2 linked regions of the Homo sapiens genome follow. The protein of the gene in region 2 interacts with the protein of the main gene of each other region in a pairwise test. Each region holds a gene or a part of one and is shown on either strand. Other genes may lie near its edges.

Region 1 (3,749 bases), on a different chromosome or scaffold from region 2:
TAAAAACTAACAATTACTTCTTGGTTAGTTTTGGTTAGTTGTAGCTCTTGCTGCAGTTCATCCAGGCAACACAACAAAAATGTGCACTCTAGGGAAAGGTAAATTTATTCCTTCATTTATTGCTGTCAAATATCTGTGGAATGTTTATTGTACAGGTTGAGCATGCCAAATCCAAAAATCAAAATCTGAAACTTTTTTTTTTTTCTGAGATGGGGTCTTGCTCTGTTGCCCAGACTGGAGTACAGTGGTGCAAACACAGCTCACTGCAGCCTTGACCTCCTGGGCTCAAGCAGTCCTCCCACCTCAGCCTCCCAAGTAGCTAGGACTACAGGTGCACGCCACCATACCTGGCTAAGTTTTTTTATTTTCAGTAGAGATGAGCTGTCACTATGTTGCCTAAGCTGTTCTTGAACTCTTGAGCTCAAACGATCTCCCCCACTTGGCCTCCCAAAGTGCTGGGATTACAGGCATGAACTACTGCACCTGGCCCAAAATCTGAAACCTTTTGCACACCAGCATGACACTTGAAGGAAATGCTCATGGAGCACTCTGGATTTCAAATGTTTGGATTTGGGATGCTCACCTGGTAAGTATAATGCAAACATTTTAAAATCTGAAATCTGAAACAATTCTGCTCCTAAGCATTTTGGATAAGAGATATTTAACCCATAGAGGAAAGGTACATGGAAGCCCCAGACCACCCAAAAGAAAAGGCCTGGGGAGAAGATGGGCAGTTATGGCTAGACACCAGATTTCAGGTTTTACAGATGGATCTGGCATCTGAGAATCTATGAACAGATGGATTCTTAAGGTCAGTGACTGGCCGGGCGCGGTGGCTCATGCCTGTAATCCCAGCACTTTTGGAGGCCGAGGCAGGTGGATCACCTGAGGTCAGGAGTTCCAGACCAGCCTGGCCAACATAGCGAAACCCTGTTTCTACTAAAAATACAAGAATTAGCTGGGCATGGTGACGGGTGCCTGTAATCCCAGCTACTCGGGAGGCTGAGGCAGGAGAATCATCGCTTGAAACTGGTAGGCAGAGGTTGCAGTGAGCCGAGATCACGTCATTGCACTCCAGCCTGGACAACAAGAGCAAAACTCCATCTAAAAAAAAAAGAAAAAGAAAAAAAAGGGCAGTGACTATGGGAGAAAAATCAAAGACCAATATTTTACCTTGGGAAGTGCCCACAAAGGCAGGAAAAATAAAAGGACCTACAGAAAAGTAAAGCAGAAAGAGAACACAAGTGTATGGTGGTCCTGAGAGGTTTTAGAATAGAGAGGAGTCCAAAGAGAGCAGGTGAATCAAAAGGTTCCAGGCCAGAAGAGACCTTGGGTTTTCATGATGACGAGACCCTCCTGTGGCCTGTGGAGCTGGCTCTCATCAGGTCATCAGAGCCAACTGTGCGCATTGCTTCCCAAGTACACGTCATGTTGGGAGTGGGAGATTGGCTGTGTGAAAAAATGTCTACACCACGGAAATTGGCAGATATATGGTGACCCAGCAAACACAGTTGACACCTGAAACATAATTTTTAGGAATAGTATTTAACCTTGTATGCGGGATCCATTCTGACCTCTATCCTTCCCTTCTTACCTATTTCATTAAAACAGAAGAAAAAGCTGGTGTAACTCATTGAACTGATTTCATGACCTGCAGTTTGAAAAACATTATTTTAGAGAAAACTGGGGATTATGTATGCCTTACAAAGTCAGAAGACAATTATTTTAAAAATAAATTATAGTAACAATTGTAGATAGGATGATTTCATCTTGAAAGGAGGAAAAAAAGAATCCTAAAAGGCTGACAAGATGACCTCTCTAGACTAAGGACTAAGTATGCATGCTTACAGGAGAAGAAAAACGAGCAGAGAGAAGCGGGAGCCCTCAGAGATGGAGGGAGGAAGGGGCTGGGAGCACGGCCTTGTGTTTGCCTGGGGAGAGGAGGCCGTGTTTTGATAGTGAAAGCTTGTTTTAGAGAAAGTCACCTGTTCTGGAGGATTGAGGAATGAAACTGGAAACCTTAGGAAAAAAGCAAAGACATCGGATGTACTTGGTATTTTTTAAATTGCTTTTATTTAGTTAGCTGGAAATGCACTTTCTCAGATCCACTGTCACTCCTGCAAATTACAAGAGCGCTCAGCCACCCTGTCGAAGGTCATCCGGCTTCCAAGCAGCAAATTGGACCTTGAGCCCTCGTGCTGCCCTTGTTGCAAAGCTCTTTGTCCACACTCGCTGGCAGAGGTGGAGAGTACAGAGGGGAGGATGCTTGGCCTGTGGTGGTCTGGCCAGCCAGGGCAGGCATGAGCTCGTCACAGGCCAGGCAGTCATCGAGTGCTCTTTGTGGCCTGAAGTGGATTTGGCAGGTGCCTGTTATTTGATCAGTGTCGATGGCCAGTCGACACAAGTAAATGAATCCCCAAACTTTACTCTGACCCACCTGCTTTAAACAAATTGGAGGAAGTCATCAAGTTAGTTTCCCTAGTTTCCTCTCTGAGGACAGTCTGGGGGCTGAGGCCTGGCTGAGTCCTGTCTCCTCAGGACAGGCCCAAAAGGAGGTACAGGGCGGCCTGGGGGACAGCAAGGTTCAGAGTTTCAGGGCTATGGAGATCCTGGAGCTGATAGACGAGTGTCAGCCACAAAGGTGAAGCTGGATTTCAGGACCACAACAGGCGGCAGCTGGGAGTTACGAAGGGGGCAGGGCTGGGTTGCGGCCTCAGGTGCTCCTCTGGGTTGGGGCTTCTCTCCTCAGCCCCGCAGGTGCGGGTCGGGCAAGCCTGTGATCATAAGACAGGGCTGAGGGGGTCTGGGGAAGGGTACGGGAACCAGCAAGAGAGACCAGGGTGGGGCTGATCTTACACCCTCCACCGAACACTTGAGTTTCCTGCTTGTCAGTGTCCACTTTTGCGTATGTGGGATTTTGGATTGTTCCTTTTAGAGTCTCATGTGTACCCGACACACTACTGTTCATATTGCCCAGTAGCTTTATATATATGTAAATATATATATATATATATGGGTGCTAAATATTTATCAAATGAATAAAGGAGGAAATGCAGATTCCAGTTATTCATGGTGATGTTGGGAAGTACTGAAAGTCCTCTTAAATTCAAATATCAGAAATATGCTCTCCCATCTAATAAATACTTTTTGATGGTGCTGGTATTAATATTCAGATATGATATATATTTAATATTTATTTTTAATATTAATATTCATATATATATATTTTTTAACAAGAAGCTTTACATTCTTCATCTTGTGATTTTTTGGTTAAAAGAAAGGAAGTCTGTTTATAATGCTGTGCATTATTTCTATAAATCGCCCTCTGTACACAGGGATGTCAGATGCTGCCCAAGAGAATCTGTTTCATATGGTAATTTTCACTAATGAATCCAGACCTATACTGTTAAATTTTGCCCCAAACTGCCTGGGATGAAGTAGAGGAAGCTCATGGCAGTGAGCGTGACAGTTCTTAGAGGACGCTATCATAGTGTTTCATAACAGATGCAGAGGCTCTGCAGTTCTGAATATTAATACCAGCACCATCCAAAAGTATTTATTAGATGGGAGAGCATATTTCTGATATTTGAATTTAAGAGGACTTCCAGTACTTCCGAACGTCACCATCAATAATTGGAATCTGCATTTCCTCCTTTATTCATTCGATAAATATTTAACACCCATTATGTTCATGGCATCACATTAGACTCTGGGGGAGTTACAAAGAACCTAGGCTGGGCTCTGCCCTC
Region 2 (3,749 bases):
GCCTCCGCCAGCAGCCTCCCGTTGGCCTTTACGCCTCCTTTCTTGGCCCCACTTGGGGGCAGTTCTTTCGGAGTCTGAGCCGGTGCTGCTGGGTGAGGGGAGCCCCTGGTGAGGGTGTTTATGACTCTCCACAATGATCTCATTATTTGAGACTTCCGGCTGCTTTCTGCTGGAGGCTGGTGCAGTCCTGGGTGGGTGTGGAGGAGGAGGTAATTAACCCAGGCCTGCAGCTGCTGGGAGAGGCCACAGCGGATGGCGGAGAGGCCACAGCGGATGGCGGACAGGCTCCGCTAAGGCAAGGTCCTCAGGTGGAGCAAGACCCTGGGGGCACAGGTGCTTGTGAGGCTGGTGGTCCTGGTGCTAAGCTCATCATTGCTGGCTTCTCCATGCACAAGGCCCCTCGCCCGGCCGTGCTGAGTGTCCTCAATAATGAGATGTTTTCATTGCTTTTGTGATTATCCCAAGACCCCTCTTGTCTCCTGTTATAACAGGGAGAGGGCATGCTACGTGGCTTCCTAATTAAGAAGGTCTGTGTCCCTCAGGCTTACAGGAAGTTGTTATATCACCACTGGAAACCCTTTTTACGCCATTCATTAATTACAAAAAGGACAAGCTATTGATTTTACCGAGGGTGGAACTTAGTCACTCGTCCTCCATACCATGTTCCAAATGTGTGTTCTCCAAGCACAGAAAATGCAAAGTGGAAAACATTTGGTTTGCAGCACTTGGCTCTGAAAGCCACAGGCTTCCCCTCCAGTGGAAGAGAGCCCAGAAGACAGCAGTGGCAGGAAGCACTAAGTGGAGGGAGGAAAAAGATGCAGACCCCAGGCCCAGGCAGCCACTAGGCTGCAGGGGAGCCAGGGGCTTGGTGCTGAGTGCCAGGCGGTGCTCCCTGAGCACCAGGGAGGGAGCGTACTGTCAACCTGCTACCTTGGGACCCTCCCCACCCCTGCGTCCCCATGTGTGGGTGTGACATCCTAAAGGGCCCGCTGCGTTAAGGTGACCCCGGGCCATCTGGCCCTCCTTTGGGGCAGCCACACACCAGCAGGACAGTCCTTGGAGCAGTTCCCAGGCTGCACTTGGCCTCAGGTATTTCTGAGGACAGCAGGACCACCACACAGACACACACACATGCACCAGGGACCGCAGACACATGTGCACACACACGTAGGAGCTCACGTGCACCGGCACCATAGGAAGCACTTTGCCATGTCACTTTGTTGAGTTCCTGTTTCCAGGTGAACAAACCTGGCCCTGGGCCACACAGCTGGGCCCGTGGGACTCAGAGTCCTGCTCCTGGCCATGCTGCCCCATCCCTTCCATCAGGCAGGTGCCCGGGATACATGGGGGTCATGTGCCCTGAGCTGCCCTTTGCCACCTCATCCTTTCTCTCTGGCATATTCTTGGGGAGCCCCAGAGGCTCGGAGGAGCCTGCCTGAGGCCACAGGTGGGTGCCCGGCAGCTGGCACCACTGGCCAGTGCCCCAGAGGCTCCAGTCCTTCCCCCACCAGCAGCCTCGGGGACTTGAGAGAGACATCTGTCTTCCCGCAGAGCGTTCTTTCGTCCTCCACCCACCCCCAACCCTCCATTAAAAACAGCAACAGCCAACAGCGTATGCATTTATTTACTTTGCTGGGTGGAGGGAGATGGCTGCGAGGAGGCAGCAGCCGGGCCGTGGGTGGGGCCTTGTGCTGGAGACATCTGTCTTGCTCTGTCAGCTTCTCACCCAGCGGGACAGGGTGGCCCCTTTGTCACTTGGGTAGGAGAACTATTTAGCAAAGCCATGACCTGGGGAGGCTGGCTGCCCACCAGCAGTGAGCCCGTAACCTACCATGGGACAGACACCGCCCCGCGGCCCTTTGTTCCACCTCCCCCTGGGTGGTGAGCCTGGGTCCTCAGGCACCTGGGACATCCCTGCCCTTGACTGCCATCTTCATAAACCTTCACCCTGGAAGGGCGCCCCTGGGCACTCAGGGAGGAAGGCCGCCCGCACCTTGGGAGGGCAGCGCTTATGGGCGGGCACTCCACGCAGTGACGTTGAGGCTCCTGGGCTGGTCTGGACTCTGTCTCAGAGCCTGGAACATCCAGCAGATACTACCATCCCGGGAGACGGGAAGAGCAGTGGGGCCCTCACAGGCTCTCAGGCTCCCACACATCCATCCATCATCAGACAGCATTTGCTTTGTCTGAGGGCAGAGCCTGGCTGATGAGTTTGCTGCAAATATTAAAGAGCAGGGCCACATCAGAGCCGCCTTGGGGCCCGTTGCTGGGCACCAGATTCTCCCTCAGCCTGGAGCCGACCCTGAGAATGACCTGCACCTGGGCTCGTGCCCGCCTCAGGCTGTGTATTAACTGACCTCGAGAGAAGCAGTCACAGCCCTCGGCCTGTGGCATTGGGAATGCTCGATGGCCTGGTGGCCGCTGGGGTGGGAGCAGCTGTAGTGGTTTGGGATAATATGGCTGAGGGCAGGGCAGGGCCCCCGCCTGGGGGAGGCCAAGCTCAGCAAGTGCTCCTAGGCTGTGCCGAGGGCCGGGGTGAGGTGAGGGGAGGCAGGGAAGCCCCTGACCCTGGTTCATCGTGGACACGCTGCAGGTCCATCGCCTTCCTCACTTCCCATGGACGAGTCCCACCCCTAAAAGTCCCTCGGCATAGGACGACCTGGAGGGCAGCCCCCATGCCCAGGTTTAAATGGAGGCTCTCCCCTTACCCGCTGTGTCACTTTGGGCAAGTTACTCAGCCTGTCTGTGCTTCACTTCCTCATTGGTAAAAGTGGACAATCATTTCTGTGCTGCTTGGTGGGGTTGTTGGGAAGACCCTGATGTGCACAGCCTGCCGCGCCCTAAGCATGGGTTGCGCAGGGAATATCCCCTTATCGCTGTAGTCCCTGCCCCACGTGCACAGCCCATGTGGGGGCAAAGGGGTGGGAGGGCTCTCGTCTGCAGTGCCTTCTGCAGACCCAGAGTTGGGTGGTCCTCCCACGCCCTCGGCGGCTGGAGGGCTGTGGTCACATCTCTGGTAAAGATGCCGAGAGCTGTAGGAAGTTACTCCTATTCCACTCCCAGGTGGTCATGGAGGCCAGATCGTTAGGGGACTCGAGGGCTCCGCTCCACTGCTGCGTGTGGCTGGCAGAGGTGAGGACCGGGCTGTATGAAGCCCTGGAGGTTTTCTCGCTCTTGGGCGGAGATCTCCCTGCCGTTCGGGCCGTGCCGCGTGCGTGGGGCCTGGGGCCCATCACACACCTATGAACTGGACCAGAAGGAGCATGGTCCTGAGTTAGCTCTTAGCGCCTCTTGGCGGGGAGTGGGGAAAATCGCGCCTGTGCACAGCCCAGACGGCTCCCTCAGCTCTGCCCGCAGCCCACCGCTTGTAAAGCCAAGTCCCCGTCTCTTTGGGGCCTGGAGATCATTGGTGCCTAGGGAAGAAAGGAGGGGCTGGTTTTCCTAGATCTAGGTCTAGTTAGTTTTTTGCTTTTCTAGCTTTTTAATTATAGAAAAGGTCAAATATACGCAAAAGTAAAGAGAAGAAAGAATTCCTGTGTAGTTATTAGCTCAGGGCCAGTCTTATGCGTTGACAGCCCTGACTACTCCCCCACCACAGAGAGCTCTCAACTGTGGAGGTTTTCTCTTTTAACAGCTTTACTGAGATGTAATTACATGCCGTTCTGTTCACCCACTTCCAGGATACGATTCAGCAGGTTTTCTTCTATTCACAGAGGTGGACATCCCCCGCCACAGTCTATTTCAAAACC

The links. The genes of interacting proteins can lie anywhere in the genome.
Region 1: the proteins of ACOT7 (region 2) and DCTD interact in binary tests that used the Homo sapiens proteins (3 or more experiments, as listed by UniProt).

The regions. Positions count from the first base shown.
Region 1 is NC_000004.12:182,896,773-182,900,521, reverse strand, and holds part of DCTD (deoxycytidylate deaminase), read left to right. Parts: intron 1-3,749. UniProt on the Homo sapiens protein: Catalyzes the deamination of dCMP to dUMP, providing the nucleoside monophosphate substrate for the thymidylate synthase/TYMS.
Region 2 is NC_000001.11:6,268,136-6,271,884, reverse strand, and holds part of ACOT7 (cytosolic acyl coenzyme A thioester hydrolase), read left to right. Parts: intron 1-3,749. UniProt on the Homo sapiens protein: Catalyzes the hydrolysis of acyl-CoAs into free fatty acids and coenzyme A (CoASH), regulating their respective intracellular levels.